4 linked regions of the Homo sapiens genome follow. The protein of the gene in region 4 binds, or shares a complex with, the protein of the main gene of each other region. Each region holds a gene or a part of one and is shown on either strand. Other genes may lie near its edges. The genes, in order: DRC3, DRC4, DRC8 and DRC9.

Region 1 (8,555 bases), on a different chromosome or scaffold from region 4:
TACATAGTTAAGCAGAGAGCAAGAGGGGGAGGAGGCAGATGCACAGAGAAAAGCAGAGATGGGAACCTGGGAATCAGAAAACAAAAGACAAAGGACAGACAGATCGACACAGACAGAGGCTGCCTCCTTCTTGCTGGCTTTCCAGTCCCTAATGTCCCTAGGTCCAGGCCTCATGAGAGTTTCCTGTTTCTCACATGAAATCCTCTTCTACTTAAGCTAGCTCCAGTAGGTTATTTTTTAATTTAATTAATTTATTTTTTTTGAGACAGAGTCTCGCTCTGTCGCCCAGGCTGGGGCACAATGGCGCGGTCTCAGCTCACTGCAACGCCCGGATTCAAGCGATTCTCCTGCCTCAGCCTCCTGAGTAACTAGGATTTCAGGTGTCCACCACTACGCCTGGCTAATTTTTTGTATTTTTAGTAGAAACGGGGTTTCACCATGTTGGCCAGGCTGGTCTCAAACTCCTGACCTCAGGTGATCCACCTGCCTCCGCTTCCCAAAGTGCTGGGATTACAGGCATGAGCCACCGTGCCCAGCCTCCAGTAGATTCTGTTGCTAATGGTCCAGAGGGATTTGACTGAGACACCACAGCACAGGGGGGATCTGTAGATTTGGTCAGTCACAATGTGAGGCTGACTCCAGGCTGCCGTTCGTGGCTGGACCACATTCTCATCCTTATCAACCCTCTTGGTGAGGACATCCAGGAGGGATATTTTCCCCCACTTTCCACCCCTGATTCTTGCCTCCCTGCTGGCCCTACTTCCTATCTTTGTCTACATGCCTTCCCAGCATCTGGGCCTCCCTGAACCTCCTGTCCTTCTGCCCTGCTGGTCCCTGATGCTAGGCAGCCCCTGTGCTCTGTTTTTCATTCCACTGGGCACTGCTGGAGAAACTCCTGGTGCAGGGCTGATGGTGTCTGCTGAAAAGCCAGGTTGGGCCATACAATCCTGTTACCTGGTCTTAGAGACTTCCCTCTAAGACTGCCCTCCTCTTGCCTCCCTGACCATCCACTTGGATGCAGCTTCTGCAAATATGCATCCTCTGCCCTGAACTGTCCCTCATCAAATGTCCCAATGAGCTCTTGTGCACACTTCTCTCTTGCTTCCAGGGGAGGCATAGCCTCCACACCCTTCAACCCCTACCCCTTCTCCACCTGTGCCTTCCGTCCTCCCAAGACCTTGGTCCTTTTCCTCCCACTCTCTCCAATCTGTTCACACTGGCTCCACCTCGTTGGGGTGACTGATTCTACCCCCAAAGACAGTTCCAGACCTCGGCCTCTCTCTAGCTCCCCACTCTTATGCAATGGCTTCCCCTGCGGTTTCCCATAACTTGTCATCAACTTGTCTTTGGGGGAATTTTAATGTGTTATATTTGGCTGATGTTTTCTGCAAAGTGTTTGGCCTTTTTTTTGGGGGGGGGGTGGGGAGGTCAGGCGCGGTGGCTCACACTTGTAATCCCAGCACTTTGGGAGGCCGAGGTGGGCGGATCACAAGGTCAGGAGATCAAGACCATCCTGGCCAACATGGTGAAACCCTGACTTTATTAAAAATACAAAAATTAGCTGGGCATGGTGGCGCATGTCTGTAATCCCAGCTACTTGACAGGCTGAGGCAGGAGAATCGCTTGAACCAGGGAGTTGGAGGTTGCAGTGAGCCGAGATCGTGCACCACTGCACTCTAGCCTGGTGATAGAGCGAGACTCCATCAAGAAAAAAAAAAAAAAAAAGGTGCTATACTTTGGGAAATGACTCTTAATTTTGATTTCAAAACTTTAACTGACTTATCCCTCCTACTTCATCAGGGCCTGGTACCTGTGACAGATCAAGTTTGCTTTCAGTCAAGCCCAGCAATTGCTATGCTAGGAAATGGGGGATTGTTATTACATATGCTATTTGTTAAGCACATCAGAGCAGGATTTGGATCCTGACTGTGCATCTTTTGGCAACTCACTTCACCTATCTAAGCCTTGGCTTTCCCATCTGTAAAAGGTGGATAATTTCTCCCTTCTGCATTTGTGTGAGATCACGTATTTAGTCCACACATGGGTAGTGAGTAACTGCTATATGCTGTGAATAAAACAGACGGACTTTAACCCAGCTTCAGGCATGAATCAAACAATAATACAAATATTTAACTACAAACCATGACAATTTGTAGGTGTAGGGAACTATGAAATTGTACATTAGGGGCACCTGGCCTGGCCAAGGAAGACAGGGCTGATTGGAAGGACAAGCAGGAAAGAAGGAGGAGGTAACTTTGTGGAAAGGCCCTTTAGGTGGGAGAGAACAGACTTGTTGCACTTTGGCTGAAGTGATGCAAGTTTGGAGAGGTCTGTGGGAGTTTTGTTATTATCCTAGAATCCCTGGAAAGCACCTAGGGCTTAATAAGGGCAGCAACATTAGCTGGGCATGGTGGTGCATGCCTGTAGTCCCAGCTACCCTGGAGGCTGAGGCAGGAGAATCGCTTGAAACCGGGAGGCGGAGGTTGCGGTGAGCCGAGATCGTGCCATTGCACTCCAGCCTGGGCAACAAGAGCGAAACTCCATCTCAAAAAATAAAAAAAATAAGGGAAGCAATGTGATCAGATCTTAGTTTTTAAGAAGCTCACTCTAGCAACAGTACTGAGAATTGCAAAAGTACTGAGGTGAGAGATGACCAGGGTGTTAGCAAGATGTAGATGGGAGAAATTTCTAGAAACTTAATTTACATGTAGGGCTAATACTCACCAATATCCAGATAAGAAAACAGAAGCTAGTTAAAAAGGTTAATTAACATGCCCAACTTCATACACTTAGCACGTGGCAGAGTTCATTTTCCTAATCATGACTCAACTGTATCCAGGGTACTGGGGACTATCATTGCCACAGCTCACAGTGTTTCTCACAGTTGTCCTGGGTTCAGGGCCAAGGCCCAAACAGTCCTCTTCTATGGGGATCTTATAGTTTACCACCCAACCTGGGTCCCCTTTGACTTGCCTGATGATAGTGTTGTTGAAGACCAGAGAGGTTGGAGCTGGGGAAAGCAGCAGAGTTTTACACAACTGTCAACGGAGTGGCCTCCTCACAGATAACAGATCCAGAATTTTCCTGGGAAATGATAACCTGAAGTCAACAGGATCTGAAAACTATAGTCCCTATTGGCCATGAATTAATAAGGAGAAAATTGGTTGGGCGAGATGGCTTACACCTGTAATCCCAGCTCTTTGGGAGGCCGAGGTGGAAGGACTGCTTGAGTTCAGGAGTTCAAGACCAGCCCGGGCAACATAGGAAGACCCTGTCTCCATTTTTAAAAATAAAAAATAAATAAATAAATAAATAATGAACAAAATTTTTCTTAAAAAAGAATAAAATCAATCACTTACTGAATGCTTACTGTGTGCTCAGTGCACATGCATTATTTAAGTACATGTAAGCTCCGGAGGCCATAAAAAGGGAGTCCTAATGCCCTTATTTCCCAGCTAGGGAACCTGAGGCTCCAGGGAGGTAAAGGAACTTGTCCAAAGTCGTACAATGAGTTACTGACAGAGACGGATACAGAACTTGAGTAGCCGTATTCACATCCAAAGCGGTATATACAGTACCAAGATGAAATCATTTGATAGTTATGAGGTCAGTTATGATGGCTAAATTCTGGGAAAAGTTATCAGTGGACCGGGTACCTCTCTTTCTATGAAAGGAGGCTGGAAGACGGAACCCCTTAAAAATCCATTCTGGCCCTGCTCCCTCGGGAAATGCTTCCTTAGTATTTTTTTTTTTTTTTATTCAAAAGCTTGACAAGCCCAGGACTAAAGTGTCTTGGCTGTCTCACACGACTGTAAAGTGGCTGGGAGAGGACCTACGTGCTCATTTTATAAATGAGAAGGGCCGGGCCGGCGTTCTCCGAGAAAAAGGTCACAGGAAAGAGTTACGTCGGGCACTATCTGTCCCTGCAAGTCCTCCGGGAGCCTCAGCTCCCAGGTCTCACCTTCTCAAGCGCTGGGAACTCGGCGGTTCCACGCAGCAGACGCGTCTCCCGGTTGCTGGGGAACCAAGCGCCGCGACTTGGTTGCTAAGGGGAAGTCAGAAGGGAGACATCCTGGGTGAAAGTTGACAAGTCACGTGACCACATCTCCGTGTGGTGAAACACTCCTTACACCAACCAGCCGTAGAGAAAACAAATGTTTCTCCAATCAGTACTTTCTATGGGCGGGGATATTCCTAGATTCACCTCTGTTCCGTCCATTTGCGTGATTGACTCGTCTTTTGTCCAATAATAGTAAGAATCCTTTAGATTGACCAATATACAGAGGAATCAAAATGCGCAGCTTCCCCTTTGGGGGCGGGCCAGGGGAGGTGCCGCCACGGCTGACAGGGACTCCGGTGACCTAGCTCGCTCCTCCGCCCAATCGGACGCTGCGGGGTGGGTGGGGGCTTTGCTGACAGAGGTGTAACGACCAATAGGAGGCGGGCTTCGTAGGTGTCCCCCAATAGAGACGCGGCAAGGGGGCGGGGCCAAAGGCCCTAAGCTCGGCGTTCCAGAGAGTGGGGAGGGGGCAAGTGTCAGTCAGGACGGGAGTCCGGCGGGTTACAGCGGAGGCCTAGGTGGCAGACAGGGGGCCCGGGCCGCTGCGTGTTGTCCACCCAAGATGGAGTTCCTCCTGGGGAACCCGTTCAGCACACCAGTGGGGCAGTGCCTCGGTAAGGCCGCGTGTGGGGCAGGAGGCTGGGCAACGGCGGCCGCTGATCCGGCTGGTGAGGACCGCGGGCCTCCGCCGGGCGCCGGTGCCACTTCACGAGCGGGCTGGGCCTCCGCCAGCCGCGGGTGCCACTCCACGAGCGGGCTGGGCATCCTGGTCGTCGGGCCTTTGCCGGGCGCTTGTGCCACCTCACGGGCGGGCTGGGCATCCTGGTCGTCTGGCCTTCACTGGGCGTCGGTGCCACCTCACGGGCGGGTTGGGCATCCTGGTCGTCGGGCGTTCGCCGGGCGCCGGTGCCACCTCCCGGGGGGGCTGGGCCTTCGCCGGGTGCCGGTGCTATCCCACGGGCAGGCAGGGCATCTGTGTCCTCGGGCCTCCTCCCGGGCACTGGTGCCACCTCACGGGCGCGCCAGTGCCACTCTGCCAGGAGGCACCCCTGAGGCCCAACTTGGACTCGGAGATGCCCCAGGCTTCCCTGCCCATCAAGGCTCAGCCCTTCCTTTTGCTGCTAGAGGTGGTGCCAACTGCTGGTCTGCTTCCCCAATGCGCTTTGGGAGATGCCACTGCATGTGTCTTTATCCAGCCCAGCAGGCTCACTGCCACTGCCCCAAGGACCCAGTTCTCCCAAACCCTTTGTGGGATGTCACCTTCTTCTCCATCTTTGTCCCTCCTCTTCGGTACCAGCAACCCTCAGACTGGGCACCCTCCCAGAAATGCCCCCTGCTCCGGGACTTGCTAATTTGAGCTGCAACTCAGCTGTGCTGTAGGAGGGACTGGGATAGGAGGAGGGGCTCTTGGAGGGTGATTATCTTGGCAGGGGGATGGCATGCCTGCAGTGCCTCCCAGGAAAGAAGGGAGGCTGTGTTATTTAATGATAAGAGCCCTGGACTGGGAATCATGGAAGCCTGGACTCTAGCAGTGGTTTTGTCAGTGACTCCATATGACCTTGTGCCCTTTCTGGTTTGAAGTTCCCCTGTCTGTCAAAGTGTTTGGAGATGAGATGTGATAGATCCCTTAAAGTTCTCAAGTTTTGATATTCTTTGTAGTACTCTGCACATTGACTGTTGCTTCCTCCCCCACCTCATATTAAGTTTACCAAAGCTGAAATCTTTTGTTGGCAATGTAGAGAGAATGGTACTCAGCATTATCTGTTAATCCTATAGGGGGGATGTGGACACCTGGGGACACCAGAGATGGCCAGAATCATGGATAAGGAAAGCCCAAAGTGTAGGTAAAGGAATACTGAAATGGCCACCATATGGGACTTCCTTACTAAGAAAGCAACTTGCCTTTTTACCCAAGGCAGTGGCTTATGCCACTTGATCAGTCAAGAATGCTGATTAGTTTGTTTGAAAACTGGATTCCTCCTGGTTGGTTGAAGGACTGGTAAAACGTCTTTTATGAGCCAGGATCTTTGGTGTTCTTATGGGCCTGATTTCAGCAGTAGTGATTTGTTTATTTTCTGCTTTGCTTATGAAATTTTAGCTTACTTTCCAGCCTTTAGTGGAGCCTATAAACTTATTGAGGTCTCTCCTGTTGGCTAATTAGCATTTAGGAGCCTTTCTTTACTTTCTGGCGTAGTATCTTTTATAATGCATGAGGGACCCCAAAAGAGTGTTTTCCCACCTTTTTGACATCTTGTCTCTTGCTGCCCACTGGAGAGTCTCTGGATTCTCACTTCCTTACTTCTTCCCCATGTCCTTTTCCACTCTCTTCAGGTGCTCTTGCATGGCAGCCACACTCCAAAAACTAATTTCCAGCCAGTTAATGGAGGGAGCCAGAAAACTTGCGAGAATTGTTTTCCTTTCTGTCCCCTTTATAATAGGAAGCTCTACACCTTTAAAATGACAAGGTAGTAAATGAGGGGTAGAAGTTAAAGGGGATTTAAAATACAAATGTGGTTGGGTGCGGTGGCTCACGCCTGTAATCTCAGCACTTTGGGAGGTTGAGGCGGGCGGATCACAAGGTCAGGAGATCGAGACCATCTTGGCTAACACGGTGAAACCCCGTCTCTACTAAAAATCCAAAAAAAAAAAGAAAATTAGCCAGGCGTGGTGGCATGCGCCTGTAGTCCCAGCTACTCGGGAGGCTGAGGCAGGAGAATTGCTTGAACCCGGGAGGCGGAGTTTGCAGTGAGCTGAGATTGTGCCACTGCACTCCAGCCTGGGCGACAGAGTGAGACTCTGTCTCAAAAAACAAACAAACAACAACAACAACAACAAAAAACCAAATATAAGAGATATAGGGATATATAGCAAGTGGAAAGAGCTTGATACTTCTGTCAGGGAGACCTAAGTTGAATTTTGACCTGGCCCCCATTTCTTGGCTGTGTGACCCCAGAAAATTGTGTTGCTTTCTGAGGTTTAGTTTGTCAGTCTTCTGAGAGAGAGAGAGAGAGAGAGAAAGATTCCTATTCACAGAGTAATGTAGTTTAAATGAGATAATGTATGAAAACACTTAGCATAGTATCTGGAACATAGTAGAAGCTCAGTAAATTGAAACTGCCACTGTTAATAACAGAATATTTAAGTTAGGGTTGGATTTTCTATCTGGAGAGGATATGTGAAACAACTGGCCCGTCTGTGACCTGTGAAGGAAAATACCCTACCAGGCCCCAGGATTCACCATTGCTCATAAGATGCTTGACTAAAGATGATGATGGCTCCCCACTGCCAGGTAGCCAATAGGTCATTTCAGTTCAGTTCAGGTAAATGATTAATGGACAGAATTAGGTTCTAATGTATATTCCGTACTGTTGTGACAAAGTGTCAAAGTGACTTTCTTGATATTTAGTGTTGTTAGTATTCTTTTAAAAGAATGTGCGGGGGTGGGGGATTGGTGGGAGGGAGGGGGAATACAGAAATAAAATAACAACTACAAAGCTAATGATTAAAAACAGCAGCTGTAGGCTGGTTGTGGTGGCTCATGCCTGTAATCCCAGCACTTTGGGAGGCCAAGGTGGTGGATCACTTGAGGTCAGGAGTTGGAGGCCAGCCTGACCAATATGGTGAAACCCTGTCTCTACTAGTAATACAAAAATGAGCCGGGTGTGGTGGTGGGCGCCTGTAATCCCAGCTATTCAGGAGGCTGAGACAGGAGAATCGCTTGAACCTGGGAGGCAGAGGTTGCAGTGAGCCAAGATTGTGCCACCGCGCTCCAGCCTGGGCGACAGAGTGAGACTCTGTCTCCAAAAAAAAAAAAAAAAGGAGAGCTGGTCCCTCTCTGATCCCTGTCCTCAATGGATTTACGGTTTCAGGAGAGAAGACAGAGATGCATGAAACAATGAGTGGTGTAGATTGTAAGTGCTGAAGGAGTCAGAAACAATTCAGAAGAGGCTGGGGTGACAGGGACTGGCTTCTTTGAGTCTGAGGGCTGTTCATAAAGGATGGGTAGGAACTCTGCATGCAGAAAACAATATCATTGGGCCTAGGGACAGCTGAATGAGGCAGGGAGTGGGGCACAGGCACATCTGTGAGTACCAGTCTGAATGGAGCAGAGGTGGCTGTGGGGAGTGGTGGCAAGTAGGGTTTGGGCACAGGAGGAAGCCCTGCTCTGGATGGGTGGCATCAAAGACTACATTCTTTTTTTTTTTTTTTTTGAGATGGAGTCTCACTTCATCACCCAGGCTGGAGTGCAGTGGCACGATCTAAGCTCACTGCAACCTCCGCCCCACAAGTTCAAGCGATTCTCCTGTCTCAGCCTCCCAAGTAGCTGGGATTACTGGTGCCTGGCACCGTGCCGGGCTAATTTTTGTATTTTTAGTAGAGACAAGGTTTCACTACCTTGGCCAGGCTGGTCTTGAACTCCTGACCTCGTGATCCACCCTCCTTGGCCTCCCAAAGTGCTAGGATTATAGGAGTGAGCCATTGCGCCCGGCCCAAA
Region 2 (8,675 bases), on a different chromosome or scaffold from region 4:
ACTTCCTTCAGAGAAGCCTGGTCAAGAAAGCTTGGGCAGACAGCACCCACCACGAGAGCCCTGTAAATGGGCTGCCAGACGGAACTGCACATGGCGTCGTGCGTGGTTTTAGCAACTTTGACAAGGATGGGAGAGAACCTTCTAACCCCACCCCCTTGTGGAAGTTGCTGAAACCACGCATGACACCAGGAGCAGTTCTGTCTGGCCACCCATTTACAGGGCACTCAAGCAGGTAACAAATTTCCATATCCTATCCTGCTGACTTTGCTACTCCCAGTAGTCTTCAGCCCATGCTTTTCTGTGTCTACATGTCTCGGTAACCTTTTTTAAAGACAAAGTCTTGCTCTGTCGCCCAAGCTGGAGTGCAGTGGTGTGATCACATAGCTCACTGCAGACTCCAATTCCTGGGCTCAACTGATACTCCCACCTCAGCCTCCCAAGGAGCTGGGACCACAGGAGTTCACTGCTGCTGTGCCCAGCTATGTAACGTTTTTAAAATTACAAATTTCATGTGGAAATTTTATTTATTTTTTAAAAACATTAAAACCTAAATCCATTTATCTTTTTTTTTTTTTTTTTGAGATGGAGTCTCCCTCGTCATCCAGGCTGCCTTGGCTCACTGCAACCTCCACCTCTTGGGTTCAAACAATTCTCCTGCCTCAGCCTCCACGAGGAGCTGGGACTACAGGTGCCCGCCACCACGCCTGGCTAATTTTTTTTTGTATTTTAGTAGAGACGAGGTTTCACCATGTTGGCCAGGCTGGTCTTGAACTCTCTTTTTTTTTTTTTTTTTTTTTTTTGAGACAGAGTCTTGCTCTGTTGCCCAGGCTGGAGTGCAATGGTGCGATCTCAGCTCACTGCAACCTCCGCCTCCCGGATTCAAGCCATTCTCCTGCCTCAGCCTCCTGAGTAGCTGGGATTACAGGTGCCCACCACCACGTCCGGCTAATTTTTTGTATTTTTAGTAGAGACGGGGTTTCACTATGTTGGCCAGGCTGTACTCGAACTCCTGACCCGTGATCTGCCCACCTAAGCCTCCCAAAGTGCTGGGATTACAGGCGTGAGCCACCGCGACTGGCCCATTTATCTTCATTTATGTTTCATTTAGTCCTGAATGAAAACATTAGGTGGAGCCAGGCACAGTGGCTCACACCTGTCATCCCAGCACTTTGGGAGGCTGAGGCGGGCGGATCACTTGAGGTCAGCAGTTCAAGACCAGCCTGGCCAACATGGTGAAACCCTGTCTCTACTAAAAATACAAAAAAATTAGCCAGGCGTGGTGGCGGGCACCTGTAGTCCCAGGTACTCGGGAGGCCGAGGCAGGAGAATCGCTTGAACCCAGGTGGCAGAGGTTGCAGTGAGCCAAGATCATGCCACTGCACTCCAGCCTGGGTGACAGGGTAAGACTCTACCTCAAAAAAAAAAAAAAAAAGAGAGAGAGAAAATATTATGTGGAAATTTTAGAAAACACTGATGAGAAGAAAACAGAAATATCACCCATATTCCTTGGTCCAAGGATCCAACAGACCAAGGCCCATATTCCCACAACCTAACAGAAACAGAAGTAGTTTGGTTGTGTTTAGTGTTTGCTGTTGTGTTTGCTGTTGCATTTTTTTGTTTTTTGTTTTTGTTTTTGTTTTTTTTGAGATGGAGTCTTGCTCTGTCACCCAGGCTGGAGTGCAGTGGTGCAATCCTGGCTCACTGCAACTGGAACAGGAATTAAAAGAAATTAAAAAGTGTGTAAGCAGAAACTCAGTTATATATAAGAAAACCCAACTCCCCCTGAAAAAGAGAAAGAGCTGGAGTCCTTTAAAAATTAACTGCCTGTTTTTCTGCGGCTAGTGAGCCTTGTCTCTCCTCCCTTCCCAGGCATTGTGAAGACCCTGATTCTGTAGCTGTGCGGCTGCAAGGTCACTAGGCAGATAAACTCAAGTCGCAAAACATGTTTTTCCTTAAAAAGTAAGAAATGATGTAATGCATGTTTCAACTGAACAACTGCCTTTATTTCTCACATCTGAAGCATGCTTCCCCCTGCACAGATCTCCCTCTGCCCCACGAAAAGCTTAAAAGGTAACTTAACTCTTTGTTCAGGGCTCAGTCCTTTGGATTTTAATCTGACTGGGCCGGTGCACCTAAATAATTAATAAATATCCTCCTGAACCCCATCGGTCTCTCTAATTCCTTAAAAATCCCACTACACAACCTCTACCTTCCAGGTTCAAGAAATTCTCCTGCCTCAGCCTCCCAAGTAGCTGGGACTATAGGTGCGTACCACCACACCCGGCTAATTTTGTGTGTGTGTGTGTGTGAGTGTGTGTGTGTGTGTATTTTTAGTAAAGACAGGGTTTCACCATGTTGGCCAGGCTGGTCTCCAACTCCTGGCCTCAAGTGATCCACCCACCTTGGACTCCTAAAGTGCTGGGTTTACAGGCGTCAGCCACTACACCCTGCTTTTTTTTTTTTTTTTTAAGAGACGTGTTGCCAGGCTGGAGTGCGGTGGTGCGATCTCGGCTCGCTGCAACCTCCGCCTCCCAGGTCCAAGTGATTCTCCTGCCTCAGCCTCCCGAGTAGCTGGAACTACAGGCACACGCCACCACACCCAGCTAATTTTTGTATGTTTAATAGATATGGATTTTCACCATGTTGGCCAGGATGGTCTGGATCTCCTGACCTCATGATCCGCCTGCCTCGGCCTCCCAAAGTGATGGGATTACAGGCGTGAGCCACCGCGCCCAGACTCCTGGCCTAGTTTGGTAGTTTCTTTCATAGTCGGTTTTCAGAAGACCCTTCCTGGGTCAGAAAACCCATCTACTTAAATTTAATTCGTAATGTACTGCTCTCTTTTTAATCCCTCCACTCCAAGAAGGCTACCTCATCACAAAGCCCTGAAGGCAGTGGAGGAAGGTTCAGCATTACTTAGCATTTGGGACCTTCACAGCCAGCTGCAGGGACTTGGTGGGGCTCCCAGAGCTTTCCTCCCCCCACCAGCTGAAACCCACCCTGCCACACCTGCCCAGAAATTGAGTTACTGACAATTCCTGTACCACAAAGGGAGAGCCCTTTACAAGAGAAAGACAGACATGGAGCTGATGAGGCCACGAGCTCCGCCTTCCTCTTCTCGGTCTGGGCCTGACTCCTGCCAGGCTTTCCAAGGGAACAGTGGTTCCTGTATCCCAAGGTTGTGCCCTGGGCACTCCAAGGGCACTGGACCTGTCCGGGCCTCCTTGGTGTAGAGGGATCTCTAGCCACTCTGGTGTGCCCCAGGCTCTCCATCCGGGAGACCAAAGGTCTTAGGGTAATTCCTGCCTCCGGCTCTATTCCATGGGGACCCTGGTGCTCTGCAAAGCCTCGTGAGCTGAAACCCTAGGTCCCAGGGATCCAACAGACCGAGTCTGCCATTCCAGGATGAGAGTCCCCTTGACGCATGTTCACTCTTCTGGGGACCGTGCGCCGCCGACCCCGGGCCCTGGGCGTTCTATGACCACCCCTGTGAGCACAGGGCTCTGGACAGCCCAGGTCTCAGTCCCGAGTGCTGCCAGGCCCCGGGGCCGGGAGCATCCTGAGTTTGCCCCACGGAGACCCCCACAAGAGCACCGAGCTCTCAATTCCAGAAACCCAGCGCTCCAGGCCTCCCATTCCCAGGGTCTCCGTGTACCGAGGCCTCCCTGCCCCGAGGTCTCCGGGCCCCTGCCGAGGACCCCAGCCCCGCTCCCGCCCCTGCTCACCATGACGCCAGCGGACAGGCCCAGCGGCGACTCCGGGACCAGGGCGCCCGCCCCCGGAAGCCACGCCGTTTCCCGGCAACCGCTGGGCGATGCCGCGATAAGTCACAAGATCCTCGCGAGACTCCGCCGGGCAGCGGCCCTGCCAAAGGCGGGAGTGCGTCCCTAGAGACGGGCGTCCGGAAGGAACCCGGTTGTGAACGTTGGGAAAATGTCGCCGGCAGCCCAGAAGCCTTTCGCTGCAGGGCATGTTTTGCTTATTGCTGGAACCTAAGCTCCACGAGGGGGGAACCCTTCACTTCTATCCTTCAGCGCCTAGAACAGCACACAGCACGTGCTCAGTAAAGACGTGCTGATGAAGGACCATTGAAGGAATGATCAATCAGCCACCCAAGCCTCTGAAACTTTCCCCAAATGAGATTCAAATCTGGGCAAACACTCTATCCCCTGGGCCTCACTCACCCCACCCGCCCACCTTTGAAGGGCCCTCCCAGCTGCTGCGCTGGTGGGTTTACACACACCTCAAAAACGCAGAAATCGGAAAGAAAAATACGTTCCAGTTTAGTTCCAAATGTTTGAAATCAGTAAGTATTCCTTTCACAAAAATAAACTGCTCTTCCTGAAGAGGCCTCCTCCCCACTCCTCACGGATGAAAAGAAACCAGAGGCTTCCCGACAGGCCCTGCAGAAAACAAACAGCTGCCACTTTCCTTTTCTAACTAATCTCTTGTTCTGAAAACTGCTAGCCATTTTACAATTTCTAAAATGAATCTGCCATCCGTGAAACCACCCTGTTACCTACATACAACCATCTATGTCACCCAGAAAGCTGAGTTTGTCATAAACAGGTGCTTTTTTTTTTTTTTTTTTTTGGAGACAGGGTCTCCTTCTGTCGCCTAGGCTGTGATCACAACTCACTGCAGCCTCGACCTCCTGGGCTCAAGCAATCCTCCCACCTCAGCCTCCTGAGAAGCCAGGACTACAGGTGTGAGACACCATACCCAGCTTTTTTTTTTAAGTTTTTAATAGAGACGGGGTCTTGCTTTATTGCCCAGAGTGGTCTCAAACTCCTGGCCTCAAGTGATCCTCCTGCCTCGGCCTCCCAAAGTGCTGGGAGCACGTGAGCCCCACGCCCAGCCCTAAGCTCTCATCTTTAACATCTTCTTAAAAAGTGGTCATCTACTTGGGAGGTTGAGGTGGGAGAATCGTTTGAGCCCTGGAGGTGGAGGTTGCAGTGAGCCAAGATCACACCACTTCACTCCAGCCTAGGTAACAGAATGAGACCTGAGACCCTGTCTCAAAAAAAAAAAGAAAAGGTCTTGTAGCAGATCTTGTTCTCCCATGTGTCTGGGGATGAAGAGTACAGAATCCATGCTCGTAGAAAGTTGTGCTGGGGGCAAAGTGTGAGAAATGAAAGAAGGCCTGGTGGACCTAGGTCTTCCTGTCCAGCTGGGGGAGGAAGTTGCCACATGAGCTGGGTTTGCTCAGGCCTCAGGCACCCACACAGTGGTGGGAATCTGAGAACCACTGTGATGAGAGACTTCCTGTTTGCCCACCTAAGTCCTGATTGTTCTTGGAGAGGAGCAGCCAGTTGGAAGAACTGCATTGGCTCAGCTTGCACAAAGCAGTGATTTATTTATAGTAAGCCCTGAGGCCTCTGTGAAGTCTGGCTGGTCACTGTGCCTGGGCAACCAGGAGCCAGCATCACTGTGCCAGACTCCCTTGGCCTGAGAGGGGCCTCCTCCCCCTGGGACAGGGTGGTCAGACAGTGACGCTGGAGAGCACAGTGGGGGTAATTATTATAATTTAACACTTACTTCACAAAACCAATATGCTAGCAGCTTCATGCTGATTGGCTTTTTGCTTCAGAAGTCTGGATGAGTGTCCTGAATTAAATAGCTGTATTAACAATAATTCCTTTCAGCAAAAAGGGCAAGAATAGGAGGGTTAGCTCAGGATAGCCTAGACAGGGTACTCATTTTTCACAAGCTAAGAGCAATCCTGGTCTGTCGGTGTGGGCTGCAGAGATGAATCATTCAGGGAGCCCTGAATTGCGGCTCCCTGGGATCCCGACAGGGCCCACTGCGACCTGTTCTTTTCATATTGAATTCGAGTTCAGATTTTTAGAAAAGAGCCTTTTCTTCACATATGTGGCTTAAGATACTTTCATTCAGTGTCAAGCTGTGCAGCTCAGAAACCCAGATAAATGGCATCTGAGTTTCCTGCAAAATCCCAGAGCAAATGTTAATACAAACAAACCGACTGCCCTCTGTCTGATGTCTGATGCTTCCTGCCACCCACTATCCACCAGGTAAACCGCCTCAGGCCACGGCATCAACTCAGTGAAGGCCTGGATGCTGGGTTAACAAGAGTGTTTATGAAGACTAGACTTTTTCTTTTCTTTTCTTTTCTTTTTTTTTTTTGAGACATACAATCATAGCTCACGGCAGCCTTGGACTCCTGAGCTCAAGCTGTGCTCCCACCTCAGCCTCCCAAAGGGCTGGGATTACAGGCATGAGTCAATGCTCCTGCAAACGGACTTTCTTTGAGAGATAAATATTGAAGTACTTACAAATGCAATGATCTAATGTGTATATAATTTGCTTCAAAATGACCCAGCAGTGGAGGGAAGTGAATGAGGACAGAGAAGCAGTGGCCCAGGCCAGGAGCTGGCAATCGCTGAATCTGGGCGATAGGGACATGGGGGTCAGTTTCATCGAAACTGCCTTGGCGCTCTCTGCAGCCCGGGCCCGCCGCCCTCTCCTTACCTCCCATCCCCCATCCCGCCCCTTCCAGCCTCCCAAGCACACGCCCTCGCCCCCACCCGCCCCCCGCGTTAATTCGCGCCATCCAGGGCGCTCTGTGAGTCTGTCATTACCCAGCGCGAGTCAGGCCCCTCCTGTGCCCCTCGCCAGCCCCGAGGGGCGCCCGCACACAGTCGGCGCCCCACACGCAAGTACCTGGAAGAGAACAAGAGGACGCCAGCGGGCGCGGCCGCCAAGTGAGTGCGCAGGAGCCCCGGACGCCCGGCCGGGGTCGGGAGGGCGCAGCCAGGTCCCGGTGGTGTCCGCGGCGGGGCGCGGCCCGCGAGGGAAGGGTCGGCGGGGGAGGGGTCCGCTGGGCCAGGGGCCAGCAGGGGGCGCGCGCGGGCCGGGGCGGGGCCGCACCTGTCCTGCGGCTGGGGGGGCGCCGGGAGGGGGCCGGGGCCCGGGAGCAGCTGCGCGCCCCGCCCCGCCCCGCGGGCTCCTCCCTGCCGCCGCGGCCCCCCGGTTGCTGCCCCGATGCGCTGCGCCCGGAGCCGGGGCCGAGTCGCTGCCGCAGCTGTTGGGGCGCCCGGGCCAGGCGACGCCGCCGTCGCCCGTGCCCCTCCCAGACCGCACCGGCCGCATGGAGCCCCCGGAGGGCGCCGGCACCGGAGGTGAGTTCAGCCCCAGCCCCCGAGACCCCCGCGCAGCGCTTCCCCGCAGCGAGCCGCAGCCCCTCCCCCCAGGGCTCACCCTTCGCCGCTCCCGGGAGTCGCGAAGACCCCTTTGGCAGCTCGGGGTCGTCCGGCGGGCCAGGGGCACCTCCCGGGCGCGGTCCCCGCGCGGGGCTGGGGGCACACGGACCGAGTCTCCGCCCCCTTGTTCTCTGCGCTCCCGGCCCGGGAAGCCGTGCCCGGCACGCTCCTTGGTGGGTGGCCCGGAGTTTCGTCCTGAGCCCCCTCCCAGCCAAGCCAGCCGGTGACCCGGGGAGCGGGGGAGGGGGGTTCCGGGGCTGGAGTTTGGGGTCCCTGTCGGTGGGGCGTGAGGGCGACGCTGGCCGCTTGCAAGCGCGTCCGCTTTGTTCGCCCAGCCGCGAGTCCCGGGGGGCGAGGGCCGTAGACTCGCGGGCAGGGATCCTGCCAGGGGCGAGGGGCTGAGATGGGTCTTGGGGATGTGGGGCATGCACGGGCGCGGCCTGCCGGGGACTCCAGAGCTGCAAGGGTGGCTGGTCCGGGAGTGGCCCAGGCGCACGCTCATCGGGGAGGGTAGGTGCGCGTGGAGCGCTCCCTGCCCTGATGGTGGAGGCCCTACTGCAGGACCTTGGAGTCGGTAACGGGAAGAAAGCTCTCAGAACCTCCCCCCTTCCCGATCAGAGACTTTTCCAAAAGGGCTTTCGGGGTTCCATTTGCCTAGGTAGGAACTTGGATGCAAACTGCAGACTCCTCCACCTGCCCAGCCAAGCCCACCACCTCCTGGTTTCCTAGAGCTCCCATTCCAGGGAGCCAGCAGGTGCCTGAGGGCACAGGCAGGCCAGCCTGCCGCTCTGGAACTACATGGGAACCTCTCAGTCCCCCAGCCGCACACAGTGGCATCCTCTGGAGCCCGAAGGGCTGTCCCCGGGAGGAGCAGGTCCACCCACCCTGTGTATCTGCAGTCCAAGGTATAGGGACAAATGCCCCAGGGCTGGTGGGTTTGGGTTTTGATTTGTCATTTGTGGGAGGGACCAGAGCTCTTTCTTAACACTGATAGTCCCAGGCTCCTGGGTATTCCCAGTAGCAGCTTTGTGGACATAGGAAGCCTGGAGGTTGGGAGTGAGGGCTTGGGGGTCTCCGAGCTGTTTCCAGCTGTGAACTGTGGGCAGTCAGGCCCCTGTGAGCCTCAATTTCCATTTCTGTCAGTGGAGACAGTTCTGCTTCCCCTGCAGGGCTGTGGGAGCCCAAGGCATTTGGGAGTGGAGGTTAATATGTTTTCCCTCCTCCTTTGGGAAAAAAGGAGGACTTCCCAGCAGCTTAAAAGGCAGAGAAAGCAGGTTCAGTTTCTGAGCCCATCAGTCACTGGCTGGGGGCTTCAGACACCTGACTCAATCAGTGCACAGGTATTTACCTACAGGTCGCAGCTCTGTGCAGTACCCTGCCTGGGGTGGGGAGTTAGTGGGAAGACAGGGCCCTGTCCTCTGAGGGCTCACGCTCTTGACACCAACTCCTGTTTCC
Region 3 (5,241 bases), on a different chromosome or scaffold from region 4:
ATGGTTTCTGTTCTGTGGGGGTTAAGAGGACAAAGAGTAGGGAAAGGGGAGATGGGTTGTTGTCTCGTAGAATTTTGTGAAGCACAGTGATTACTTCTATAATTTCAGGCATTGCATTCAGAGCATTTCCAGAATAAAAGATATGCCATCTGGAAAACATGAACTATCGATCACTGTAAATGAAGGCCTCTTCCTAGATTGAAGATTTGAATAAAGAATATAAAAATTCCGCCCCCCCCCCGGCGCCCCGGCTTTTTTTTTTTTGAGACGGATCCGGTCTTGCTCTGTCACCCAGGCTGGAGTGCAGTGGCGCGATCTTAGCTCACTGCAACCTCCGCCTCCTGGGTTCAAGTGATTCTCCTGCCTCAGCCTCCCGAGTAGCTGGGATTACAGGCACAGGCCACTGCGCCCAGCTAATTTTTTGTATTTTTAGTAGAGATGGGTTTCACCATGTTGGCCAGGCTGGTCTCGAACTTCTGACCTCAGGTGATCCACCCATCTTGGCTTCCCACAGTGCTGGTAAAAATTCCCTTTTAAAGAGCTTTTCTGTCAGTGAAGTTACAGATAATGTAGCCTCAATTGAATACTGAGGTCATTTTTAACACTAAAAATGTCCTTTTTTAATGTTAATTGAACCATATATATTTGTTTTGAACATGGCCCATCATACATATATGCATACACACACATAAAACCTGCACACTTATATATATATGCCAACATATTTCCTTTAGGAATTCTCTCTGCTAGGCTGATGTGTAAATTTGTTTACACTGAAGGTCAGTAGCCTGATGGACAGTCTCCTGAAACCATCCTCATATTGGTCCCCTTGCCTTCTCCCATACAAAGCTAGAGCTCTCTGGTTCACAGACTGGGTCCTGAATGACTCAGAGTTGCTAATCACTTGAGGCAGAATGAAAAGCGCAAGTGATTTTGAGTAGGGAAGACTAAGACTGCATCTACACGCACAACTGGTTTGACCATTCCAGCTTCATCCACCTTAAGGCGGAATACAGAGAGTGAGGGTCAGAATGGCAAGGCCGTCACAGCTGCCACCCAAGAACTCTGACGCCATTGTTAAAATTACCTTCGGGATTAATTCTGATGGGGATGTTACGACTTTCAAAGCATCAGCTTCTTCATCCTGAGGATTAGTCTAAAGAAAGTAAATCCTAGGTTATATATCAGGCAACATGAATTTAGTCAAAATGGCCCAAACAGTTAGATTTTCCTACTGTTGTGTGCCTACTATATGTTTAATATTTAGTAAGTGTAGTAAGGTATAATGATACTTAAATCTACTTCCTCTCTCAAGGATATTACAATCTTATTTGGGAAATAAAACTAACATAAAATAATTCACAATACAAGACAATAGAAAGCTAAATATCAGAAGATCAACTAGGGCTGGCCCAGCCTGGAAAACTTGGTTTGGGAAGACTTAAAGAGAAAATAGGTTTTTTGAGATGGTAGAATGTATATGGTTAAATTGTTGAGGGCAAAGGTAAACTCTTGTGCATTATAATTCTGTCACACATGGTAGATATCAACAAATGTTTGTTGAATGAATGAGTGAATGAGTAGATGATGAAGACCAGGTGAAGGGGCTAATGAGAGGGAGACATTATCGATGTGTAAAACAGTCTGAACAAAAATGGGGAGGTAGGAATGAACATGCTATTTCAGAGAGAAAATAAGCCTAGCTGGCCCAGAGGGTAATGTTGGCAAACAGCAGGAAATTAACTTCAGTAGACTTACTGGGACTAAATTGTGGAGTCCCAGGCTCAGGAGTTTGGAATTCATCCTGTGGGCGATGGAGAAGTATTACAGGCTTTTGAGCAGATGACTCACATGGTGTGTGAGTGATTGTGAGAAGGTTTTTCTGGTGCTGGTCGGTTTGTTAGATGCATAAGAAAGAGGTTGGACTAGGGAGGCCACTTAGAAGGTTATTTCAGCATTTTGAGGGCACCCAAATAAGGGCCTGACCTGGCAGTGGGAATGGCAATGGGAAGAAGGGATTGGTACAATAGGACTGTCTGTGGCAGGATCCATGGGTCATGATGAGTAACAGAGTGTAGGCGACAAAGCTGAGAGCTGAATCCAAAGTACCACCAAGGCTTTGCCCTCGATGGCGAGTATGATGGTAATGAGACTGACTCAAACAGAAAGGTCAGAACAGACCGCAGTGTATACAGAGACAGTGCGACCACGTGGTTTACTTGGAGGTGCTGTGTGATAATTTCGAAAATGGTATGTTTACAGAGAGTTCATGGTACTTAAAGATCAACTATTGAGTATCTCAGCGGACTAAGCATAGGACAGGTATGGTCAAATAAGAATACATATGTTTTCAATTATTCACTCAGCAAGTATTATTACAAACCTTCCACATATATGAACCAATATGTTTGGAAGTAATATGTAAGATGTAAATCTATACAAATCTAAGTTACGATTTAATATAACAGACCCATCAGCTAAGTGTAATAGCAGTTGACTAGTTTGGTAAAATAGGAGCTTAAGAATTGCTGCTTTGAGAGTCTCAGAATTCTACAAATTGTTTTTAAGTACATTTATGCTATATAACAATATGGATTCAAGCTACTTGCACATTCATCCTAATATCCACAAAGTATCAAACACACTAGTTTGAGAATATGCATTCCTACAGCCCTGGATGTCATATGATAAAATAAATCACACTGAATCAAGTTCCTACAAGATAGAAGTCCCTAAGTGTCCAGGAATGTGTATTGCATCAGACAGTGTTTAGCAGCCGGGAAGATCTCAGAACAATTTTTTAAACAAACACTTGCATGTTGCTGCTTCTATGCCAGGTACTGTTCTAAGTCCCATTCAAATCATAACACGTTTCATTCTCATGACAACCCTATGTGACAGGTGGTGTCGTTATCACCCCCATTCTAGAGACAGGTAAGCTAAGGTGGGGAGCTGTGAAGTGACTTGCTCAAGATCTCAGAGCTCGTGAGAGGCAGCCAGCATGTGGATCCAAACTTGTGCTTTAACCACTCAGTTATCTTCCTTCCATCTTTCATCAAATACTGGGGCTTCAAGTTAATCCTCTGGTAATTTCAAAAGTTTTAATCTAAATAAATAACCTTGTTCATGATGTCTGTATGTCTTCCTACTGTTTTGCCTGAAATGACGTGTTCTAGAGGTTGCTTGATCTATGACATCTGCAGGCTAAAAGAAGTCCAGAATCTACCAGGGTGTACAATAGCCTTGTCTTTGAACCTCTGGACTGTCGTGATGTCCTGGCTCTACAGCTCCAGGGAGCGTAACTAGTGGCACTGTGGGAGCTTGTGGGGCTCCATGGCTATTAAGCTGGCTAGTGGAAAGAGAAAAAAATCAGATGATCCTAAATGATAAATTTTCCTTTTTGTCTCTCTGAGGTGAGCCTTTTTCTCAAGAGGAAATGGAAGAAATGTTGTCTGCTGCAATTGATCCAGAATCAAATTCAATTAATTACAAGGACTATATAACAATGATGGTGATAGATGAAAATTAAATGTTCTAAAGATAATTTCTGATTGAAAGAACAATTTTAGAAATTGCTTGTTCTTGTTAATTTCACATCTTATCTTAGGATTCCTATATGTGATATTTAATACCTTGTGACATAACTATTTTAAGACACTTTGTTTTTAAAGATGATCGTAACACTTTAAACCAAATTTAGTATGTCTAGCCTTACAGAATGATAAATTACTATTTATTTAAAAACTATTCTTAAAACATTTTAACATTAGAATGGATTGTTGTTTATTTTCTACAATAAAACTCAGGTCACCTTCGAATTAATTAAGCTGACAAAATGAAAATGACTTAATTACCCAAGGTTTGGCATGTAAAGATCTTAAGAGGGGGCAGAACGAACCACTCGAAAACGAGTAGCAGTGTAATGAAGGCTTCTTTTTTAAACAATAACAAATGCTTCATCAATCTGAGTGTGGAAGGTGATTTATCAAAATAAATATTACTAATTTATTTTTTTATGAGTGCCAATTACAAATATCATTTGGGATAATAATAACTTAGTGTAAACATTTATATTTGCTGATCCAGCATGTCACCATTTATGGAGTAGCTAAAGGAGTTGAGATCATTGGAACTAGAGAAAAGAAGGTTGAGTGGAAGTTGATAGTGTAAGGTAGTGGCAATTCTCCCTTTGTCTTTAGAATTCTCACCCACTCCGCATATCTGTCATGGGAGCATTGTCCTGAATACTGAGTAAGAATACTGAGAAATGTTATGGTGTGCAAATGTACAGCTCCTGAAAGAGCAGAATGAAGCACAAGCAGTCACAATGGAAAAATATATGGCATGGCCACTGCCTCCTCCTTGCAATTCTCTCCGATCTTGGCATCTTATATGGCAACTATATGGCAACTTACAAGCAAAGGGGAAGATAAAGTAAAGGGAAGTGAACAATTTTCCAAACTTAGATATTCTGTTATAACAAGACACACACACACACACACACACACACACACACACGGGTCTCTATTTGAAGATGGCTTCACCACTATATGTGTGTATCTACATAGATGTAAACATTTAGAGTTGCTGTGAGCCTTCCTCAGGCATGTAGTCTTGCCCCCAAAAGAGGCGGCTGCTACCCAAGAGACTGTCGCTGTTCATTCATTCATGAAACACTGAAGGAGTACCATGAGATGATGTGCTGGGAACCGGAGTCCCTAACGAATCCAGGTCACAGTTTAGTGAGGGAAGCCTGCAAGGCAGTCAGCAGCCACATTTCAGATAGGGGCATGTTCAGGGTCCCGTGCAAGTGCCGAAGAGAGGCAGCTACTCAGCCTTGCAGGGAGAGAGCTTTCTGGAAGATGAAAGGTGCTAGTGAGCGGAGAAGGCTTCCCAGGACAGGAAGCTCCTGACTTTAAAACGAGTAGTTTAGTAAGTGGGTGGCGGGGCACAGGGCATTTCAGCAGGTGAGCAGCAAGTCCAGAAACCCTAGAGGTGTCATGAAACATGGAACCACCTGGGAATTGAAAGCAGCTCAGTATATTTGGAATGTGGGAGATTTGGGGGTCATGATGAGAGGTGAAATTGGAGTGGTAAACAGGAGCGGTATCATTAAGGATATCGGGTTAGGTGCTGAGTTAAGGTTTCAGTGTGAGAGTTTGGACTTTATTCTGAAGATCACAGAGAAAGATCATTTGTAAGCAGCATGGAAAATAGATTTGAAAGGTCAAGACTAGAAGT
Region 4 (7,000 bases):
AGCCCCCCAGCAGAGCCCTTCCCATCACTGACAGTGTTGGGGGCTGAGAGCCCCCCAGCAGAGCCCTTCCCATCACTGAACAGTGTTGGCGGCTGAGAGCCCCCCAGCAGAGCCCTTCCCATCACTGACAGTGTTGGGGGCTGAGAGCCCCCCTAGCAGAGCCCTTCCCATCACTGACAGTGTCTGGGGCTGAGAGCCCCCCCTAGCAGAGCCCTTCCCATCACTGACAGTGTTGGGGGCTGAGAGCCCCCCAGCAGAGCCCTTCCCATCACTGACAGTGTCTGGGGCTGAGAGCCCCCCAGCAGAGCCCTTCCCATCACTGACAGTGTCTGGGGCTGAGAGCCCCCCCTAGCAGAGCCCTTCCCATCACTGACAGTGTCGGGTTGAGAGCCACCCCCAGCAGAGCCCTTGCCACGTACAGAGATTTTCTGTCAGCAGTTTCCCAGTATTTCAGACTCATAATCTGTGTTTAGCACTCCAGTGTTCTCTTGTAATAGCCAGGTCTGGAAACGACCCATGGAAAGAGGGGCCTTTGTATTCTGCTAGAACACAGAGCATAGTAGTAGATCACTTTTCTGAAGAGCTTTTTAAAATACAGCTAATCAAGGAGTTTGCGATTTCTCTTACTTTCTACAGCTCAGCAGTGACTAATGATGTGTGACTATGCGAATGAGTTTGATGAATTCGTAAAAACTAAGCGCTTAAATGGTTATAGAAATGAAAACATGGATATTTAGAAGCCTTTCTATATACACAGTGCAGTTGAGATGGTTTACAGCAAATTTCGTTTTATTTCTGAAAATGTTGTAAACATGTAATTAGTGAAAGATTTTGTAAAACATTGTCCTGTATTTTTGTCTGTAAATATATTGCATAAGTTCTAAGTATAAATATGTCAGTATCATGTATGTTATTTTAAATTGCCTGTACGCCACTTTACACATTGACATTCAAATAAAAGCCAACACTTCAGTGGCGTGTAATAAAAGCTGATTGGAGCGTGTTCATACCTGAGGTGTGGTTCCCTTGGCAAAGGTGAATCAAGGAAAGAGCATCTCATTTCCAGAGGGAATGTCAGTGGAAATGGGGGCTTCGGGACAAACTTTTGAGATCAAATTCATTTTTTAAGGAAGTACAGATATCAAGACTGAGCTTTATTTGGAGTTAGATAGAAGGCTTAATTCATGAAATGTATGTGACACATTAGGACAACTTTGCTCTTGGAAACCTTTAGCATCCCAAGGCATTGTTTTGACTCATCAAGGCAAGCATGATCTGGTGGGTGCATTTTTTTTCTAGGAGAAGAGGGAGAGTGACAGCTTTCCTATTTGCCAGGCACAAGTTAGATATTTTCACACACCTGATTTCTTTTCATCTTAACACTCCATAAAGTGGGGATTGGTGGCTCTAGTGTTTCACTTGTCAAAAATATCTCCAAACTAGCCTTCCAGAGAACCTGTGTCCCCATCTTTATAGTTTGTAAAGTTGTATATCCTAACATCCTATTTCTAGCTTGTATTTATAATTTGTATCCCTGTTTCCTAGAAAAGTTGCTGAAGCAGCTTACAACTGGATATGTATTCCATGCCATTTTCACCTGAATAAAAACACCAAAGTGACGATAAATCTAAAAGGCAGGCAGGAACCAACATTTATTAAAACTTTGCTGTGTATATATTATGCTGGACAGCTAATAACATCATATTGTAATTCCTACTGAATACTTTTGCTCATAAGAGTTTTTTCACTACAGACAAATTGGGTAAAATCAAAATCTGACATTACAGGAATTACTCAAGTTTCAATGCGTCACTGTAGCTAAGCCAGTGAACTCCTTTGTTCTGCTGAGAAAGAGCAAGAAGAATGAATCTTCACAGGACTACTAGAAACTTCTTCCCAGCAAGGTATGAGGAAGCCCTAAGTCAATGGTGTAATCCTAAATCAGGGTTTGAAAACCCACCTAACAGGCAGAGTGAAATTAACAGGCAAAGTGAAATCAGGCTTCCCTGGGAAAGTCTCAATAGGAAACAACCTGTAGATGAGTCATCTTTGAGGTACCAGGTGTTTCTTAACTCTCTCCAAGTCCTTCCCACCTCCAGAATACCAGCAGAAAACACAAAAGAGAACTTGGTCACTTCTTCTTGCCTCTCCTCTTATCCTTGCCTTTACCTTTGCCTTTTGAATCCTTGCTATCAACTTTGTCTTTAGGCATCTTGAAACCACCAATTTCTCTCCGTATCATAGTGCCTCGCCACCAGGCCTGGAGCTGGAAGAGAAAAGGGGAGTGAGTACGACGTATGCTATGCCTGACAAGCTGCATTCTTTCCACATAAAGGGACTGTTGAATAAAGTAACTTCTGTCTGACAAACAGTCTCTCTCCAGGACATGGAAGTAGCCAGGCACGTAATCACTTCAGCGATGCTCTCCTGTCGTGCAGGACCCGGAGCTTAAGCCATGGACTCAAGAGTGAAGTTCTCAAGTAAAAATAAAGAAAAGGAATCTGATTTGACCTATTTTTTCTTCACCCGTAGAAATCTGACTTCCTTATACTGCTTTCCTTGAGGAAAGTCCAGGTTCCCCATACTTAACAGCTATTTGAACCAAAAAGAATGTTAGTTACCTGGGCCAAGGGCAAAAGCACTCGGCCAAAAATGCACAGATAATGCCAGGTGCGGTGGCTCATGCCTGTAGTCCCAGCACTTTGGGAGGCTGAGGTGGGCAGATCACTTTGAGCTCAAGGGTTTGAGACCAGCCTGGGCAACATGGCAAGACCCTGTCTCTACAAAAATACAAAAAAGAAAAAAAATTAGTCAGGCCTGGTGGCTTGTGCCTATAGTCCCAGCTGTTTGGGAGGCTGAGGCAGGAGGATCTCTTGAGCCCGGGAAGCAGAGGTTGCAGTGAGCAGAGATTGCGCCACTGCACTCCAGCCTGAGTGACAAAGTGAGATGCTGTCTCAAAAAAAAAAAAAAGAAAAGCACAGATAAGTCTAGATGACTTTCATAGGCTTGCTTGTGCATTTCATATCTTTAGTGATTGCTTAAAAGATCAGTTGTCCTAGTACTTTTAAAAAAGATTTAGTTAGCTTTCTTGAATATCTTGGTTTTAGATAACAGTTGTTCTCAATACGGTCTCTACTGCTTTAAAGTCAGACTAAACCCTAAAGACTGGAAGCAAATCCACTAGTGAAAAGAAAGCAAACGTGCTCTTCAGCTCGTTCTTAACATGTTTGTTGTAAATTCAGGAATACTGACAAGTTTTATGGGGAAACACCATTGAAACTTGATAAATACTTGCTACTTACACATCTGACTCCTTATGGGAAGCCCAACTTTGGGTCTGGATACCTGGTCCAGAATGTGGTATAAAACTTAACTATTTTAGATCACCCTAATATACAACCCAAACTACAGTGTACCCACTAGGGCCTCGACCTTCAGAGAGAAGGGCCAGCTCCAGACAGGTGCCGTCCAGCTTTCAGTTTTTGCTTGCGAGTATTTCACGTGATCTGTGACCTGCCAGTTTCATCATCACTGAGACACACAAGTTCACATAAAACTAAAATATCTCTATTTTTTTCTAACTTGCTGCTTATCCTTCCCACCTAAGCAGCTTGTATCAGAACCCAGCAGATAGTCTGGGCTGATGTATAAGCAGGATTTTAAGAAGTAGAAGGATATTAAAAAGAATCATTCTGTCAAGAGCTGGTTTTGGTTAGACATAGTAATCTGATATTTCGTCTCTTGGCCTAGGTTTTGCTTCCGCTGCTAACCACCTCTTTTTCCCCAGATGAAGAGCTGGGGGCACGTCCTTTTCTATGTTAACTGTCTCCCTGCACCATGGACTGTTGGCAAATTCTAATAATAACAAAAGTCCATGCTTCTTCTCAGATCTGCAGTTCCTTGATATACTGAGATGTGTTTGATAATGAATTGGAAATGCTTTTGTGTTCCTCAGTGTTAAGCCAGCTGTGGCGAGATACTGATTATGGTTCTTTACCTTTATAACGCTCTTTAATTCCAAGAGATCCTGTTTTACCTTCTTCTTGCTCCTCTCCTTTTCTATACGATCTTCAATGATGACCTGTTCATACTCTCTTATCTGCAAAGATAGACATTCATCATTTATTATAGTACTCTCTTGGCTAAGCTGTAGCCCAGCCAGCCCTGCACTTTTAATATAAAATTTCAAAATAAAACATGCTCAATCTAAAGATAAACCAAAGAAAAAAATGTAATAGATTCCTAGATGGTAAATATTCACATATTAACTTTATAATTGTTCCCAAAACTTTTTCAGTTTTAATAATTCAAATTTAAATTCTATCTTTTATAAAAAATGAAATATGAATTAATGTGTGATCAATGATCTCAAAATAATATGGATTGTTTTTTAAACTTTGGGAGAATGTACATACACAAGTAGTCAGCTGTCTTTTTTGTTTGTTTGTTTGTTTTGAGACAGAGTCTCACTCTGTCTGTCACCCAGGCTGGAGTGCAGTGGCGCAGTGTTGGCTCACTGCAACCTCCGCCTTCTGGGTTCAAGTGATTCTTGTGCCTCAGCCTCCTGAATAGCTGGAATTACAGCCACGTGCCACCATGCATGGCTAATTTTTGTATTTTTAGTAGAGATAGGGTTTTGCCATGTTACCCAGGCTGGTCTCAAACTCCTGATCTCTACTGATCTGCTCGCCTCGGCCTCCCAAAGTGCTGGGATTATAGGCGTTAGCCACCATGCCCAGCAGTAGCTGACTTTTGAAAGAAATTTAGGAAGTTCTGCATTTATTCCATAATGAAACCATAATCACAAGCTTGTTAGAAATCATCACTGACTCTCTCCAGAGGTCATAAACTAAGAATAATCACAGTATCTGTCTCAAGGGGCTGTGTGGGTAGCACCTTGGACAGAGTAGGCACTACGTAAGTTAGCTACTGCAGCTGTCCCCGTCAGCAGCAGCAGCATCTAAAAAGAATCCTGGTGGCTTATAAGCGCACCTCTACTTTTGACCCCAAATAGCAATACCCAGCTACTGTGGCCTATTTGCCACTCCTTCCTCGGTGAGCACCCTGATTCCTTCCACTCCCTCCTCAGTGAGTGCCCTAATTCCTTCCACTCCCTCCTCAGTGAGCACCCTAATTCCTTTCACTCTGTCCTCAGTGAGCGCCCTAATTCCTTCCTTACCATCTTTGCCAGGTCTTGAAGGTGTGCTAAGTCACTGGCCTTTGTGGCTTTGAGAGCATTTAGTTCATTCTGTTTCATTTCTGTGTCCTTATCGTATTTCTCCATCCAGAACTCCAGCCTCTCCTCAAGTTTCTATTTGGAAAGAACATGAAAACATGGCATTCAGCAGACACAAAACGCTGTATACTGTATGATTCCACTTATACGAGTTTCAAGATTAAGCAGAACATTCCATAGTGAGAGAAGGCAGAACAGTAGTTACTTACCTGGGTGGAGAGTTGGATTTCTGATTGGGAATGGGGGTGAGGGGGACTTTGGGATGCTGTAAATGTTCTCTGTATCTTTATCCAGGTGGTGGTTACATGAATGTGTATACATAACTGTTCATCAAACTATACACTAAGTACTTACACATTTTACTTGTATGTTAGTGAATTTTAAAATAGGGGGCCAGGCGCGGTGGCTCACGCCTGTAATCCCAGCACTTTGGGAGGCTGAAGTGGGCGGATCACCTGTGGTCAGGAGTTCGAGACCAGTCTGACCAACGTGGAGAAGCCCCGTCTCTACTAAAAATACAAAATTAGCTGGGCATGGTGGCGCATACCTGTAATCCCAGCTACTAGGGAGGCTGAGGCAGGAGAATCACTTGAACCCAGGAGGCGGAGGTTGCGGTAAGCCCAGATCGCGCCATTGCACTCCAGCCTGGGCAATAATAGCAAAACTCCGTCTCAAAAAAAAAAAAAAAAAAAAAAATAGGGGGAGGAGGGTAATCTAGATGTCTGGATAAGGGAAGTTGCAATGAAGAGGAAACAAAAGGTATGTAGAAAAGTCTGAAGGATAAGGAATAGCATCGGATCTCTCTTTGATTGACAGCACTAAATCCTAGTCAAGAAGGATACAATGTATTCAAAATTCTAAAAGAAAATGAATGTAGGGCCGGGCGCAGTGGCTCACGTCTGGAATCCCAGCACTTTGGGAGGCCGAGGTGGGCAGATCACAGAGTCAGGAGATCGAGACCATCCTGGCTAACACGGTGAAACCCTGCCTCTACTAAAACTACAAAAAAAAAAAAAAGCCAGGCATGGTAGCCGGCACCTGTAATCCCAGCTACTCGGGAGGCTGAGGCAGGAGAATCTCTTGAACCCGGGAGACAGAGGTTGCGGTGAGCCAAGATTGCGCCACAGCACTCTAGCCTGGGTGACAGAGTGAGACTCCGTCTCAAAAAAAAAGAAAAAGAAAGAAAAGCAAGTGAATGTGAATCAAAGATTCTACACATAGCCAACCCAGCATTCAAATGTAAAGGAAAGAAAGACTATACTCAATATTTCTGAGAGAGTTATTCAAGGATGTACTACTGTAGCAAAATAAAATGAAAGAGATATATTAAGAAATGGAAGAGAACCAGTAAAACATGTATTTAAGCTATGTGATAGTTTTTAATCATAAATCATAATTCAGAATTAAAATCCCAAAGTAGGCAGGATAGTCTAGTTGAAAGAGCACAACTCTGGCACTGAAAGAAAGTTTACTTAAATTCTCTAAGCTTCTGGTTCCCTCATATATAAAATTCTATACCTAGCCAATAATACAGTATTACTATTACAGTCATAGTACAAACCTCAGAGGGTTGTTGTGATGCTGAAATAATCCTTGTGAAGTCCACCCACAATGCGCATATATATACATAATATCTGCATATATATTATCACTATATATATTTACATATAAAGTGAATGACTTCAACATGGGATGAAGAGCGAGAGAAGAGGTAAGTGAAGTCTCTTTGCCTTAATAAAGGCAAAAGAAGGTATAAACATTGAC

Evidence for each region.
Region 1: DRC9 (region 4) and DRC3 share a complex: the UniProt entries of both Homo sapiens proteins name them as parts of the nexin-dynein regulatory complex.
Region 2: DRC9 (region 4) and DRC4 share a complex: the UniProt entries of both Homo sapiens proteins name them as parts of the nexin-dynein regulatory complex.
Region 3: DRC9 (region 4) and DRC8 share a complex: the UniProt entries of both Homo sapiens proteins name them as parts of the nexin-dynein regulatory complex.

What each region holds. Positions count from the first base shown.
Region 1 is NC_000017.11:17,968,381-17,976,935, reverse strand, and holds the start of DRC3 (dynein regulatory complex subunit 3), read right to left. Parts: upstream 4,075-8,555; 5' UTR 3,962-4,074; exon of another isoform or gene 3,837-3,961; intron 3,272-3,836; exon of another isoform or gene 3,183-3,271; intron 3,085-3,182; 5' UTR 2,974-3,084; intron 1-2,973. Other genes in the region: TOM1L2 (TOM1-like protein 2), read left to right, coding at 4,623-4,674. UniProt on the Homo sapiens protein: Component of the nexin-dynein regulatory complex (N-DRC) a key regulator of ciliary/flagellar motility which maintains the alignment and integrity of the distal axoneme and regulates microtubule sliding in motile axonemes.
Region 2 is NC_000016.10:90,017,775-90,026,449, reverse strand, and holds the start of DRC4 (dynein regulatory complex subunit 4), read right to left. Parts: upstream 3,771-8,675; 5' UTR 3,729-3,770; coding exon 3,726-3,728; intron 1-3,725. UniProt on the Homo sapiens protein: Component of the nexin-dynein regulatory complex (N-DRC), a key regulator of ciliary/flagellar motility which maintains the alignment and integrity of the distal axoneme and regulates microtubule sliding in motile axonemes.
Region 3 is NC_000001.11:245,083,832-245,089,072, forward strand, and holds the end of DRC8 (dynein regulatory complex protein 8), read left to right. Parts: intron 1-108; coding exon of another isoform or gene 109-137; exon of another isoform or gene 138-2,928; coding exon of another isoform or gene 2,929-2,963; exon of another isoform or gene 2,964-3,413; coding exon 3,414-3,529; 3' UTR 3,530-4,006; downstream 4,007-5,241. UniProt on the Homo sapiens protein: Component of the nexin-dynein regulatory complex (N-DRC), a key regulator of ciliary/flagellar motility which maintains the alignment and integrity of the distal axoneme and regulates microtubule sliding in motile axonemes.
Region 4 is NC_000003.12:197,887,449-197,894,448, forward strand, and holds the end of DRC9 (dynein regulatory complex protein 9), read right to left. Parts: intron 5,312-7,000; coding exon 5,180-5,311; intron 4,100-5,179; coding exon 3,998-4,099; intron 2,267-3,997; coding exon 2,132-2,266; 3' UTR 1,629-2,131; downstream 1-1,628. UniProt on the Homo sapiens protein: Component of the nexin-dynein regulatory complex (N-DRC), a key regulator of ciliary/flagellar motility which maintains the alignment and integrity of the distal axoneme and regulates microtubule sliding in motile axonemes.